Linked DNA regions of Homo sapiens: region 2 is linked to region 1. The links come from fine-mapping of genetic effects on gene expression. Tissue or cell type: prefrontal cortex. Region 1 holds a variant in brackets; the other region holds the start of a gene. All regions are shown on one strand. Distances are from middle to middle.

Region 1 (8,000 bases):
CTCTCTCCCGCTTGCAGGGCCGCCCCGGGCACCCCAGGGCTGCTGAGGGGCGGGCGGGCCGTAAAAGCCACGAGAGAGGGGCGGCAGGGCGGCGCGGCCTGCGAGCGCCGCGGGACCCCGAGGAGCGGCGCGGGGAGTACAGGGGCGCGCGGGGCGGGCGCGGCGCGGGGCTCACGGTGCGCGCGCGCCTCGGCCTCGCCCGCGCACACGCGCCTCCCGGAGGAGAAAGAGGCGGGCGGGCGGGCGCAGAGCACCGCGGCGGCGGCGGCGGCGGCGGCGGCTGCAGCAGCGGGCCGGGCCGCCGCGAGGGAGGGGAGGAGGGGCGGGCGCAGGGCCGGGGGCGGGGGGCGGCGGCGGCGCGGCGAGCTCGCTGCTCTCTCTTGAGTGTGCCTGCGCGCAAGCCGGGGAGCGGGTGAGTGCGCCGGCCGCTGCAGCCAGCCCGGCCGGCCCGGAGTCGGGGGCGGGGGGCGTCGGGAGCCCCGACCTGGGGGTGGGCGGTGGGCGGGCGGCGGCCGCTCTGGCGCGGCTGGGATGCACCTTGAGCGGCGCCTTTCGTTGCAGCGCGCGGGCGGCCCGAGCCTCGGCGGCGGCGGTAGCGGCGGCGGCGACGCTGACACCTCCCACCATGGACAGCTTCGACTTAGCCCTGCTCCAGGAATGGGACCTCGAGTCACTGTGGTAAGTCCCCGTGCCGGCCGCTTCGGGCGGGCGGGAGCGGCGAGGGGCGGCCGCGGCGGCCCGCGCGTCCTCACCTGGGCCGGGGGCTCCGGGCGGCCGGCCGCCGTGGGGGTGGGGTGGGTCGGGGGCGCCTGCCTCGCCAGCCCTTTTCTGCCTCCCCGGGTGGGATGCGTGGCCGCCTGCCCGTCTGTTTCCCCCTCTCCTGTTCCCCTCCCTCGCGGCGGCCCGCCCCAGCCCAGGGACTGGTGATCTAGGTAGCCAGGGGCAGAGCGCAGCCGTGGGGAGGAAAAGAAGCGATTTGAAGACTGTGTCACTAATGCCTGGGGATCCACCCGTCGGCCCCCTGCTCCTCTCACTTCCTTTCCCTCCGACTGCGCCCCCTCCCTCCTCCGGCTGGCACCACCGACCCCCTGGAGTTGGTGCTGCTGCGAAGTGCCCTTAGAGGATGCTCCAGCCTCCCCGCCTGCGCCCGGTCTCGGCTGCATCCTTTCTGTCTCTCCCACCCACTTCCACCGAGATGGAAAAGTGAACATCCAGGGCAGGAAACGAGTGTTTCTCCGTGCCGGTATTCCAGAGGCCTTAGCCCAGGGAGACTCCTTTCCTCGGGGTTCACAGTTCCTCTGGGCCCTTTCTTCACACCTCGTCACAGTTGCACTCCTCCTCCCCACCCCACCCGGGCGCCCCGGGTATCCCTTTATGCCACGCTCACAGCTCGCAGCCCGGGGGGCACTCCAGGTTCCGTTTCTCGGGGGATCTCACACTGGGGAGCTGCTGTAGGTAAATCGCCGCTGGAAGCAGTTTAATTCCAGTTGCGGGTGTCTTAAAAATCCCATTGGCTGCTTTAGTATCTGTCTTATTCCCCCTTCTTTCTCTGCTCCCCCCAACCCCCCACTATCTCTTAAATGTTTCCAACCAGCACTATTCAGGTGGTAAAATTACTGCCTGCATATTCCTGGAGGAACTTGTGTTATGTTTAATATTTACGGGGATGAACATCTGCTGGAACAAGCATATTAACTGCACTCTGTTCTGCCTCTGGTAATCGCTTATTGTAGAGCTGAGCTTTTTTTTTTTTCCTTTTGCTTTAATTCAGTAAAGAGTTCACATGTGTCTAAAACTGCAAGTGGTGTGCACATGAATATGCAATGTACAATTTTAAAGCTAAACTGCTTTATGATTTATAACATATAGATGATATGTGGATCTGTGTGTATTTTCTGTGATTTAGGTTTCCAGTGACTTTTATTTTCCTAAAGACAGGTGTAACAAAATAAACTGGACACAAAGCTAGCACATTATCAAACGGTTTCTTATAAAAGATCCTATGATGAGTAAGTACAGCTTGCTCTGCATAATGTTGGTGCCTGTAAAACACACAAGGACGGGCCCTAATGTAATAAAACTTTTACGTATTGCACTGGAAACTTCAAAGAGCCAGGGCAGAAAGAATATGAAACATGTTATGACTGTGTAAAAGTTGCTAATTACTGTGTTGCTGCTCCTGGGGTTATTTCAGCCTTTCATTTACAGATACCTATTATTTTATAGGTTTACATTTAGAAATGTTGGTTTCTGGCGCAAATTCAATAGCTTTCCAGATAGCAACTGTACTTTTAAAATGCTGTTTGCTTTTAAAAGGCAGTTTTTCAGTCAAAGGGAAGAACTTACTGTTTCGGTATATTTTTATGCTGCTTGTCTGCTTGCTGACTCAAAGCGAACCCCCTTATGACTTTCATAAGTAATATTTTGAGATTATCAGCGTAATTTGTGGGGTCTTCCTGCACAGAACCTGAGCTCTGTTTCCTTTTGCATCCTTAGTTCCCAGCTGAATTACCCTGGAGCAGTGTCACAGAATAAATATCTGTTGAATTGACTTGAAATTTACATTAGCAGTACATTTATTACTTTAAAAAAAACAAAAACTTACACGTTTTTTAAAAAGTTGATGTACGTGCAATCACATTTTAATCAGTGCATCGAGTTTTGGCTTATGAAGGCATGTAGACTTTCTTGATCACAATATACTAGGACAGTTTGGCTTGACCGGGAGGGTTTCTAGTTTTGCAGATGTAGAATTACATTTTACAAAAGCTTATATGTTTCTGATAAGTTAAAGAAAAACCAAGCTTGAGTATGCATTTCTAATATGTTTAGACATTTTCTCACAGATGAATTTTTGGATGCTATGTTCTCAGTTTTATGGTTTACGTAAATTTTTAAGTTTATGGTTACTTTTAAGCTTATAGATGGTTCAAAATAACTAATATTTGAGAACTTTCTGTGTGTCCAATATTTTCATATCCATTGTTTTCTTATTTGAATCTCTTAATCCTGGAAAGGGTAAGTAAGTGGTAGTAGTTCCATTTTATAGATGAGGAAATAGAAGCTTTGAACTGTTAAATGACTTTACTGAGGTCATAAAACAGATGACAGCAGACTTTTTAAAACTAACATTTGCTGAACACGTATTATTTATCAGACACTGTTCTGGGTACATTACATGTTTTAGCTCATTTAATTATAAAGCAAGTACTGTTATTAGTTCCATTTTAAAGATAGGAAAATTGAAGATGGGAAGATAGGGTAACCTGCCCAGAGTCACACATCTAAAAATGGGGCAGCCATATTTCAACCAGAAATTAGCTTCAAAGCCCAGTGATCTGACTTCAAATCCGGTCAGACAATTGCCATTTTCTAGAGTACTTCAAATATCTCTCAGCTTATAAGGACAGCTCTGAAATTAATTACAAAACAAAACCTCGATGGACTGGAAGTTAAGGTCCTACTAAAATAACAAAGAGAGAGAGCCCTAAATGGTATTAAAATTAAAAATTTGAAAATAAACTACCATAGTTAGGAAAGTATACCTGTTAATTATGAATTATTGTATTAGAGCAATATACATTTTAAAGACCATTGAAAACTTCTTCCTTTGATTGATCATAGAAAAACTTTTTTGAAGGAGGAAGGAGGAGGTACAGATTAATGGCAAAAGAGAATCTTAATCCCTAAGAACTTTTTCTAATTGATGGACATCATTTTCCAATTGAACAAATTGGAATTTATTAGTGGTGACTGTGGCTTTGAATCTGAGCTAGTTTATTCTTGCAGTCACAGAGAGTGTCCTTATAGAAAATA[A/T]AAAGGGAAAAGCTCAGTTCTGTTGAATATAATCAATATACACAATCAATTGATAATTCACAACTACCTCCTTTGCCTTCTTGCACACTCTTCCTGCCACTCAGAAACATCCATACTTACTCTTCAGGATGGGTTTTTTGAGCCTGAATTATCCAGATGGCTGTTTCAACTTTTTCAGCCATACCTTAAAGTTGAAAAGGATGGCCCTAATTTCCACCTCTAATTCCACTTCCAATTTCTGGTTTGAAGCAAGACTGGAGAACTTGGAAAAAGGTTAAGGTGTTCATTCAGCACCCAACACTGTAGCTTTGTTCTGTAGAGTCTTGAAGAGTTGGGCATTCCGTGAGTTTACAGGGGCAGCAGATATGCAGAGGCACAAGGCTGCCCCCTCCACTCCCTGGTCTTCCTTCTGTGGTCCACCAGCTTTTGATTAGGTGCTAGACATATAAGCCATTCCTCAGGGCCTTTAAAATAATGACCATCCCTTTTAACAGGCTAACTGTTGCTTTCATTTAATTCGTTTAACAAATATTTGTTGATCATCTCTTAAGTAGAAGACCTTGTGCTGGTTTCTGTGGGAGATGCAAGGATGAGTAAGGCGTAGGTTGTACATATTAGTGTTATTGTCAAGTGAGGAAATTAAGACAAGAACACACATGAAAAAGGAAGTTTTCAACACTGGTGATTCAGAAAAGAGACCATATTTGGGACTTGGGTGGAGGATGGAAAGAGGAAAAATTGAGTTAAAAAACAAAGGCTTCCATGAAATAGGTGGCCTTTGAACTAAGTCTTGGAAGACAGATGGTGTGGGTGGGGGTATTGAGAGTACATGGAGACATCTTGGGCAAAGAAAACTTGAACAAGGGCTTTCATGGTGTCTCTAAAAGATCATTTTATGCATCATGGTGGAATTACCTATACTGTCTCTTTTAAAGATGCAGAACTTTGTAGTCATGAGGTAGTTTCAGTGAATGAGAAAAGTTTTCCAAAATGAACTTGTATTTCATCTTCCTTAAATGTTAACACATTTTAATCATTGGAGAGAAAGTCTATCAACATACAACAGTATAATAAATATTCTGATCTTCCCTACCACTCACCCCATTCCTCCACAGCTTCATATAAGCCAGAATCCACACACTTTTGTTCAGATAGGCATTATTCTTTATATTCCTTTAAGTTGGAGCCTTTGAAGTTATAATACATGGATCATTTCATACTCATCAACCTGTTCAATTCAATAAGCATTCACAGAATATTAGACAGAGGAGAGGTACCATCAGGGCAGTGACTTTCAAATGCTTCAGACCATGACCCCCAGTAACAAATACACGTTTAACACTGCCACCCACCACCCCTTGAACATGCATACACGTAAGTGAAACAAGAGCATCATGAAATAACGCTTATTACTATGTGTGATACACTTGGATATTTCCTATCCTCTTTCTTTCTCTTTTTTCTTTTTTTTAGAATTTCCCATTCATAGGCTGAAACCTGCAGTTTAGGAAACCCTGCTGTACAGGATGCAAAGGACAGTGTGTTTTTTGGGAACTTAATAGGAGAATAAGCCATACCCATAAATACCTGTAATCCAAGGCTGACACTGCCTGCTTGAGGGGGCATGGGCACATCCTGTTGAAAGTAAGATATTCATGGTGGGGTGGCATTTGAAATGGGTCCTGGAGTAGAATTTCAGGAGGAAATGGAAAGGAGGAAAACCACGTGGTGGGAAGACTGTGAATAGAAACATGGAGGGAATAAAGTGTGGATCTTGTTTGGTGAAGGTAGGCTAACACAGGCAGGGAGGGATGCAGAGGCACTAGCAGTTTAGTCTCCCTAAGGATGCTGCCTAGTAGTGCCCGCTGATGCTTTTGCTTGTCTTCAAATCAACTGCCAGGGGGCATGCGCAGGCCAGTGGGCGGCTTCCTCCAGGCCTTTTTAGACTTTACTTCATAGTGCCAGAAAATGCTACAGATCCCTGATCTTGACCTTCAGGTGCCTCTAACCCTTTCCTCCAGCTGCAGTAAAGCAAACATTTTAAGGCCTATTCCTATCCTTTTGGTCAGTCCTTATGGGTCAAAACAGAGTACAAAGAAAGGGCAGAAGGAGAGTGCACCTGTCTGAGCCCCAGGTGTCCTGGAGCTGATTGGTAGACAGCAGCTCTGCAGAGCTGCGTGTACTCACACTGGCCGAAGGTCACCGTGTAGTTGACTGCGTGGCTCTCATTGGCCCTCAGCATGGGCCTGGAGGGGCCTCGGCAGGTACGAGGAGGCAAAGCCTTCTCAGAAGAGAGGCTTCCAGGGCTAGGGCTGTGGGCAGCAGTGGGGAAGGGGCTGCTCATCAGCCTGGAGGAGGCAGGGGGCCTCGATGGGAAGCAGTGGAGTGTTGCATCCGCTGTGGAGGAGCTCAGCCCTCGTGTGGGGTGTGTTTTGGAGAAAGCTGGGTGGAGAGACTGGTTAGTTCAGGGCGCCGAGAACTTGGGGACTCCAGCTGGGCTGGGGCCCCAGAGGATACCAGGGAGGAGGAACCCAGGGAGTGTGCACCTTAATGTGTGGATAGGTTTTTAACCAAATGTATCTGGATGACGATGAAGATGAGTATTGTGTGTGGGGAAATGATTCCTTCCTGTGTTCCAGATTCTCTTTTGTGAAAATGTAGGAGGGTTTTAAAATGCTAAGAATCTATTTTGGGAGAATGTCCTTGTTAACTACAATGGGTCTAATCAATGACACTTGAGCAACTTGAACGAAGACCTTTGGCTTAATACAGATTAATAGGCAAATTAAGAAAAAAAAACCTCTCAATATGGAATGCAAGATTTTGTGTGTAAGTGGAATTTTTAACCTGGAATAGATTTGCCTGTTTGATTTTTTTTTTATTTTAATTTTTGGGAATAAAGCCTTGGTGGCAAAATCGAGGCCCCATAAAAGACGATTTTAATATCATTTAATGGTAACATAATTTTTTTGTTGTTGTTTTATTTCAAAGTGAAATCCATAAAACTTATTTTCAATGTTGGCTGTTCCCTTTTGTCTTGGAATTTAATTGAGGTTTCTGAATTCAGCTGGCCCCAACCTTGCTTTCTGTTTGGCCCTGGGCAGCTCATGATTTTTCTCATTTCCTATTCTCAGTCTTGGTTTAATCACTTATAAAATGACAGCACTTAGACTGGCCTACCTCATAAGGTTGTGATGTTAAGTAATAAAAGTGTCAATTGCTCTGAATGCCAAATGTAGCTCTTCTATACCCTTTGCTTTCTTAAAAATGTCTCTTTTTCATAAACAAGGAAGAATACAGAAAGGCCGCATAAGGTCAGATTCAGCAGTCCATGCGGTGCAGCGTTCTGTCCCTGGCAACAGGACCCTGGGACGGTTTTGAGTAGAGGTTGGTAGCTTTTCTTAGTCGTGCATCATAGTCCAGCAGACAAATATGCTCTTACTTACGGTGGTACTACTCACATATGTAGATCTATTAACCATTACATAATCTTTTATGTTTCACTGAGAATGTATTGCATTACCAACCATTACATCGAATGACTTCATTTGGCACTGTGGGTCTCATTAAATTATGTCAGGCTAATCATAATTTAGTTTCACTGGAAACAAAATACACAGTGTTTATATCAGAGTAAGAGGACACCACCCAATCCAAGGAACTAAATGGGTTCAATCTAAGGAAACTACCACCCGGGATATGATAGGGGCCTTAAGTGTTTGAAGGCATTTAGCTGGGAAGTGGGAATAGAGTTGTTCTGGGTTGCTCAAGGGCACGAGTAAGATCAGTGGGTGTGAGAGCATTTAACAGTGATGTGATGTGGGCTGTCTCAAAGGGTAACAATTACCTGACTTTGTAGAAAGACATTCCTGGGTAGGCAGAGCGGCAGCAATAGGCTATCTCCGAGATTCCTTCCAGCTTCAAAATTCTATGATCATTCCCCTCACAGGGTAGCAGGAATCAAAGAGTGCAGAAGTCATTAATTGTATTCACTTGTGTATTTTTCCTCTGCAATTTCCCCACTCACCTGTGGAGAAAGGCATAGAGGGTACTTAAACTTCTTCACATAATTTCTTCCCAGGAGGCTCATTGTTAGCGGAGGTAAACAAAAATGACTGTAATTTGGAGACCACTTTAACATAGCAACTCCATTTAGAGAGTTATGTGCTTAACTTGATACTGGA
Region 2 (8,174 bases), 41 kb before region 1:
GCTGGGTCTACAGGTGCATGCCACCACGCCTGGCTTTTCTTTTTTTTTTTTTTTTTGAGACAGAGTCTCACTCTGTCACCCTGGCAGGAGTGCAGCCGCGCGATCTTGGCTCGGTGCAACCTCCGCCTCCCAGGCTCCAGCGGTTCTCCTGCCTCAGCTTCCCGAGTAGCTGGGATTACAGGTGTGCGCCACCATGCCCGGTTAATTTTTATATTTTTAGGAGAGTCAGGGTTTCACCATGTTGGTCAGGTTCACCATGTTGGCCAGGCTGATCTCGAACTCCTGACCTCAAGCAATCCGCCCACATCAGCCTCCCAAAGTGCTGAGATTACAGGCATGAGCCACCACGTCTAACCACCTAGCTATTTTTTAAAAATTTTTAATTTTTTTGTGCAGACAAGGTCTCACTACGTTGCCTAGACTGGTCTCGAACTCCTGGCCTCGAGCAATCCTCCTGCCTCAGCCTCCCAAAGCACTGGGCTTACAGGCATGAGCCACCAATCCTGGCCAACTTTTTAATTAAAATGAAGACATTCTGCCTTAGAAGTAGTAGCTCTCCTTGGTATGAAATTTATAAATTTTACAAGCAGTTTACAGAATAGTGAGGTAAACAAACAGAATAACCATCATGATAATCTCCACCACTTACTGAATACTTATGACATCCTGCACACACACTATGTTGTTTAATTTCTACAGTCACTCTATGAGTGGGTACCGTATAGACGAGGAAGCTGAACGTAACATCCCCAAGTTACCCTTGCTAGTAAATGATAGAGGCTGAACCCAAACCCAGGTCTTTCTGGAGGCAGAGCCCACCCTCCTGACCATCAAATTGCCCATAGTATCATCTAACATGAAGGCAATGGCTTCAGCCCGCACAGGTGAGGAATTCTGCTTTGAGATGAGCAGGATGGAAGGGTTTTTAATATCCATGGGGATCTGCCAGATAGCCAATGGAAGTGAAGGCACCCTGAAAGAGGAAATAGCATGTGCAAAGCTGTGACATAAAGCAGCCTGAAAGTTCAAGAAACCATGAGTGGTGGTGGGATTGTTGGGTGGTGAGGAAGGAAGTGGTATCAAGGATGGCAAGAGATGGTATTGGGGAGTGGGCAGAGGCCACTGAATCCAACATCTCGCCTGCCCAGCGATGGAGCCTTGGGATTTTCCTGTGGGTGACAGGGAGCCATTGAAGCGTTTAAGGACTGGTCGTGGGGTGAGGGGAGTGTACTGTCATCATTTTTGTAGTCTTTTGCAGAGAAAATTTGGAGGCAGTTTGGAAAACACTCTAGAGCCTGACATGTGAGAGATGAGTTAGGAGGTCACGTGTCCCCACTTTTCTAATTTTGTATCTTCTTCAGCAAAAAAGTCTTTGCCGCCTATTCTGAGCAGATGTATGATTATTCACAAATGATATACAATACAACTGTATTCACACATTGCATGCCTTGAAACATACACAAAATGTAAACACTAAAAACATGACGTAAAAATAGATGTAAGTCTGGGAACTCGATGGAGGTGGTGGCTGCACAGCATTGTGAGTGTACTCAATGCCACAGGATTCCCCATCTTAAAACGGCTCATTTTATGGTATGTGAGTCTTAATTAAATACAAAAACCAGACAAGTGTGGGTAGATAGACATTCAATTCCTTTCTTCTCATCCTTCAGTGAACGGTCTGGTGTGCCCTGGGTGCACGTACCCCTTGGGGATTAGGGCAGTGATGAGAGGCAATGGAGGGAGGGTGTGGCTGTGGAGATGCGGACGGGAAGAAGGATCTGAGGAGTGACTGAAGAGGTAGAATGGGCAGGGCTTGGTGATGGAAGGTTGAAGAGTATTCAGCAAAGAGAAGAACGTGGGAAGCCTCCCCATTTCTGGTTTGGGTATAAGATAAAGAAACGTTTTCTCCTTGCCAGGGACATGAGGCAGACAATACTGGGATAATTTCCCAGGGCTTGGGATAGGACTGGGTGGGGAAGTTTCTAGGTATCCATTCTCAGGATAAGGACGGGCCTGTTTGGATGAGGATAATGGAGGGTCAAACCTGAAGAAGCCAGATTAGCAGAGGCAAAGTGAGAGATCAGAAGGTGGTAAACTCAGAAGGGGGTAGAGACCTGAGGAGCAAGCTGGGACAAGGCAGGAGGGAATTCACAGGCCACATGGTAAGTAATGAGTGGGGTAGAGGACAGAGCAGGGTTTCATTGTGGCGAGTCTGACGGGAGGTGCTGGGGGATGTTCCAGGAGAACAGCAGAAATGTGTGATGCTATGGATGTGGGCTTGGCAAGTTCCATCTGGAGCTGGGAAGAGGCCACCCATGGAGAACAGGAACCATGAGGCGGAGAGTGGAGCTTGCAGGAGGGCGAAAATTAAGACCAAAGAATGGAAGCCTGCCAGTGTGAGAGACCGCCTGACAAAAACCAGGAGAGTATGGAGTCATGGCGGCCCAGGCAGAAGTTCTGGGAGGAAAGAAATGGTCAACACTACAGGGAAGTCAAACACTGCCAGTGGAGACAAATAGGACAGGAACTGAAAAAGCATCCATTAGTGAATCCCTGGTGTCATTAGTGAAAATAATTCCAGGCATGAATGGGGAGAGGGAAGGGTGTCGGGCAGGAAGTCCAGTGCCCGTGGGTTGACTGAATGGGAGATGAGGAGGTAACACCCATCATGTAGGTCATGTAGAGCAGCCTTAGGACATCTGATTCCTTGCCTAAGACTCTTCTTTCCTGGTGTAGCTTTGTTCTAGAAAGGTCTGGAAGACTTGTCACAGTTCCAATGCAGGATGAGCCTTTGGTCCTGATCTCTTGGAGGCCCAGACAGCCTGGGAAACCAGCAGAGCTTTGGACAAGTTAAGCAGCCCATTGAAATCAACATTCTTGATAATCATATATCTAAGAGATTCCAAAATGTTCCTGGGATTCTTTTATGGGTCTGCATAGGGTTAGAAAGCACAGGAGTCAAAGAGACCTTCTCCCTTGGCCTCCAGGGCCACCATCCTCTGCTTTTGTCAGTTGGTCTCCCCAGAGTAGAGTCCAGGTTCCTGCTTCCAGCCTTCTGGTAGACCAGGCCCTGCCACAAGTGAGAGTTGGCCGGTTGGGTATCTGGTTTAGTCACTCGCCTCCACACTTTCACATCCTCTATCAACACCTGCACACTTGGGTTGTGACCACACATGCTCTTCCTGTTTGTACAGAAAGTGCCATTCAGAAAGCTCGCCAGCGAGAAGAGAGCTCCACGCTCAGCCTCAGAAGAAAGACGTTCAACGACTTACTGGGGAGAGAAAGAAAAGGAACGGGAGCTGAGAGGTAAGATCAAACTGGAGGGTGTGCGGGCCCTCTAGGATGCCTTGCCTGGAAGAGAGGTAGCCCCGACTTTGTGTCCTGAAGGGTGGCGCTCTAAGTAGCTGTGCCCATGCTCCGCTGGTCAGGGCAGGGGGAGCATTCTTGGTCAGCCTCACCGAGATGGTCCAGGCCCTGGTGAACAGCCAGAGGGATTGAGAAGGAAGAGATGGGATGTGACCAAAGTTGGTCACTGAAGCCGTCAGTGTGTGTGCGTGTGCATGTGTGTGTGTGTGTGTGGTAGAGGGTGCACATAAAGAAGACATAACCTGAGTGTGAACATGCTCACACACATATTTATGATGCTGGCTGGGGCCTTATGAAAAGTGTGTCTTAACCTCATGTTGCTCATTAGCTATAACCTCAAAAATAGAAACCATGACATGGCCACAGACTGGATCCCAGTCAATGGCCCCAGTGAGTGAGCTTGCAAGGAGAGATCATGGGCAGTTCCACCTAAGGCCACCGTCACTTCTGCAGAAATGACTTGGAATAATGACCTCCTCACTGTTAGGGGCTAACAGCACTATATTTGTATTTCTTGGATGGAACATTGTATATGTGTGTATTTGTGTGTGTGTGTCTGTGTATGTGCATAAACACATCATGTATTTATACACATGACATTGTGTGTATGTGTGTTTATGTGTGTATATATATGTACACACACATATGATATAATGCAATATACACAGTGACCAGATTTTTGAAACCAAAGAGAACTAATAGCAAGACAAAGGGGTTTTTTTCCTAATATGTGATTTCCTTGCTATTCGAGTCTCACATATATAAAAATGAAATATGTCTACACATGTGTTTCATAATTCCTTTTATTCAAAGAGGGGATCATTCAGGTAGCTAAAGGTCAAGTGTTTACAATAACAAAGTGGTGGTAAACTCATTCTTTGAATGTTGATCGTACAAACTAAATAATCCATCAAAAAATGTTGTCTCTGCCATTATTAAAAGCATGTGTTCCTTGGTGCAAAATTTAAGAATGTTCTAACTACAAGAGCACCTTCCTTTACCTAGGGCTATCCCATCTCACTGTTGAAGTGAAGTGATTACAGTGAAAGTAATACAGACATTTAATATTCTTAGTTTTGGTTGTGTTTCTGTCAACTGCTATTCCCTTGTTCTAGGCGTAACTGCACTTAGTGTTTAGTGGTGTTATGCATATGTATATTTGATTTGCATTTAGAAAATAGAAAAATATATACATTGCTTATTTTCCAGATTTCAAGGTTTAAATTCCCACTCTAACATGATGGTTTTAGGCAAGTCACTATACATCTCTGCATCGGAGTTCCCACATCTGTAACACAAGTACAATAGTAGATAGTAATCCCTTCCTCTTAAGAATTAAATAAGCTAATACATGTAAAGTGCTTAGACAAGTGCCTGGAACATTGAAAGGGCTCAGTAAGTATTAGCAGCTGTTATCATTGTCATCATCATCATCATCATCATCACTACCTTTTGTACAATTAAGCCATCAAACTTGAAGGGACATGGTAAGAGTTTGGGAAAGGTGAAAGGTGGGAGGTGGTGTGTGTAAAATGGGTTTGGGGGGTGACACTTAAGGCCAGAGCAGTGACATTACAGTCCTTACACTGTAGCTACAGACAAGTAGTGAGCAGGAAAGAGGAACAGCACAGAACACCCCTCCCTATGAGGCCTGCTTGTGAGAGGAACATGTTCTGGAGCTCTGTGGGCTTGATGACATGTACTCATACACATCTTGTACAGCAAACCAGGAAATAGGCACATGGAACGGTGACATCCAAATGATAGTATATAACATGCATTCAGTGCCTCTCAGGTGTGAGACGTGGTGCTCGGCATTTTACACACATTTTGTTATTGTATCTGAGCCATTGCAATTATGCTTATTTTAGAGGAGAGATTGGTAGGTAGCCTAAGAGTGCAGAGCAGGGAAATAGCAGCGTTGGGATCTGACCATCTCCAGATTCTGTGTCCCAATCCCCCACCCATCACACCCAGAATACAAAGCAAGTAGTAACAAAACGTGACCAGTGAGGACGTCCAGTTTCAGAGAGTTTAAGAAACAAGTTCAAAGTCACAGAGAAAGCTGAAGGCATGGTGAGGAGCTGGATGCTGGTTTCTAAATTCCAACCATTTTTTCTACACCACTACTCAGAGGAAGGACCTGATGTCTTGCCTATCAAGGTTGACAGCTATGGACCCTTCCATAAATAACTTTTATCTTCTGCACTTCCACATCTTTTTCTGTGAAGTGGGTGTAATGTCCTGTCCTACAGAGTTCACAGGATTTTATGAGGGCTCAATGAGTCTACATACGTAAAATGCTGTTATATTATTTCCGAGTCATGTAAGGAAAACGTGTTGAAATCCACCTTCGGTAAAGGCAAGTTAAATGGAAATGAAAAGTATAAATAATGTTGGTTCTTAATGACATGTCATTAGGTATGATTTAACTTGTTCTTTCAAATGACCCATTTGCACCCTCTGGAGCTGATGTTCCATAATTTGTGCAACCATTCCCATATATGAAAATTTAGTTGATTTCCGGTTTTTGAATATCACAAGTTAAATTGCAATGACTGTTCTAGAAATCCTTTAGTGCAATCATCCTATCTGTTCTTTTAGTATTTCCAAGTCTGACAAACAAGTCATATCTCATTTCTGCTTTCATTTGCCTTTTTTTTGGTTATTAGTGAGTTGATTCTCAATGTTTTAAAACATAGCTTTGACAAAAACTAAAAACATTATTCTTCATCCAGAAAACAGCCAAAAATACATGCTCCTTTCAAAGTGAAATGGCACCATTGTTCTCATCATTAAAATACAAGCAGGTGTTTGTGTACAAATACAAACCTATTAAAAAGCATCTTGCACAGATATTCCTCTTTGTAGTTTTTATCTGCACTAAAAATGGGGGGTTATAATGAATACAAGACAACTAGACTCCTGCAATAACTAATAAACACGACAATTTGATTTATTGCTGTTCCTCCCCTATAGCCTGTTGACAGATTTTTCTTTATGGAAAAATTACCATGGTTTAAATCTCTATCATATGGCACTTAATTCAATCGGCAATATGTTACCAATTAGATCCTGCTTAAACTACCATCAGCCAGCAGACCAGGGGACATGTTAAATGGAATGACAATCAGATAACTAGTAAAATGCTTTGTGGCAGCTTTCTCAGGACCAAGGAGCAATGTGGAGACCATGGATAATGAAGAGAGAAAGGGCAAATAGGGCTTTTACTTTTCCCCATCCTGAAAATTGAAATTGTTTCAAGTTCTCCTAAAAGCATGCAAAGAGTTTGTGTTTGAGTGGTGGTTGTATAAGTTGATATTCACCACTTCCCTTCCGCCCTTCATCCTCTTGCCCCTTTGATGATAAATTGGCAAACAGAAAGGCATTCTACCCCCAAATCCTCTCTAATGTAATGATGCATAACTTCAACTCAGTTGTTGTGTCCCATTTAGTGGTGTCTTTTTTTTTTTTTTTTTGAGACAGAGTCTTGCTCTGTTACCCAGGCTGGAGAGCAGTGCCATGATTTCGGCTCACTGCAGCCTCCGCCTCCTGGGTTCAAGTGATTTTCCTGCCTCAGTCTCCTGAGGAGCTGGGATTACAGGCGCCCACCGTCACGCCTGGCTAATTTTTGTATTTTTAGTAGAGATGGGGTTTCACCATATTGGCCAGGCTTGTCTCGAACTCCTGACCTCAGGTGATGCGCCCCCCGTTGGCCTCCCAAACTGCTGGGATTACAGGCATGAGCCACTGCACCCGGCCTACTGGTATCTTTTAAGATTTCACCTTTCTCCCAAGCCCTGGATGATGACCACAGTAAAGAGAAATCTTTTTAAGTGGTATGAGCTCCCTTTTTCTATTTTCCTCTTGGAGTCTGGTTGTATCAGATAGTGCTCCTGTTGCAAAAGACAGAAACTGAATCAGGCTATGCTGAACAAAATGTCAATCTAGCAGAACAATATTGGGGGCTGATTGACTTAAAATAGAGCAGCAAGCAAAGGTAAGAACACCGTTAAGAACCACAGGAATGGAAATGTGGCAACAGTCTGGGCCACATGATGTGGCTGCCACAGTGACAGATATGACCTCAATTGTCCCCATATTGGGATGTCACTTATTTAAAATCCCAGAAAGAGGGGAGAGAGTGATGACCCCTGTTTAGATCACATGCTTGCCCCTTGAGGAAAGGTAGACCCTCCATTAGACTTCCGGCCTATCTCCCACATCTATGCATGGTGAGGCATCCCCAGAAGGAAGACTGCGGTGGTAACAGGAAGGGAAGATAGTTGGTGGTGACAGCAAAAAAATCACAAATGTCTTCCACACAGTCATTGCACGGTGAGCTCTGAGTGGAGGCTGGCTTGTTATCATGGGCAATCTAATCGTTGGTGGGTTTGTTTGCAGAAATAGGCATACAAAAGGGAGAACTGGCAGATGGCCACCCCATGCTTCCTGCATCCTCATTCTGATTGCTTTGCTTCCACAGCTGGGAGTGGAGTATGAAGACCAAGGAATTCTCTTAAAGACCTGAGCAGTTATCTGGAACTCCTCACAAAATCACAGTAATGGATATTATTTCCCAGTTCCTACTCTACACTGGGCATAGATGTTATGGACATCTTCTGAGTCCCACAACACCCCTGCAAGGCAGATATGATACACTCCTTTCACCTATGGAGAACGGAGGCTCAAAGAGGCTAGGTGACCCTCAGGAAACACAGATGAGAGGTCCCCGCCCAGTCTGCCCAGCTCTGAAATCTTCCATGCCAACTCCCTTAGGGCGATCCTGAGTCTAGGCTGTACAG

Evidence for each region. PIP is the estimated chance that this variant, and not a neighbour inherited with it, causes the effect.
Region 2: it holds the start of AFF3, and the variant in region 1 is fine-mapped to the expression of AFF3 in prefrontal cortex (BrainSeq, PIP 0.95).

Annotation. Positions count from the first base shown.
Region 1 is chr2:100,097,080-100,105,079 of GRCh38, reverse strand. AFF3 (ALF transcription elongation factor 3) reads left to right here. Exons shown (of 25, transcript NM_001386135.1): 4 at 562-678. The coding sequence starts at 626. Among named protein-coding and RNA genes, the nearest start is that of AFF3, 42 kb to the left of the region's middle. The variant A/T (reference allele first, on the strand shown) is at 3,817.
Region 2 is chr2:100,137,619-100,145,792 of GRCh38, reverse strand. AFF3 (ALF transcription elongation factor 3) reads left to right here and starts at 3,203. Exons shown (of 25, transcript NM_001386135.1): 1 at 3,203-3,309.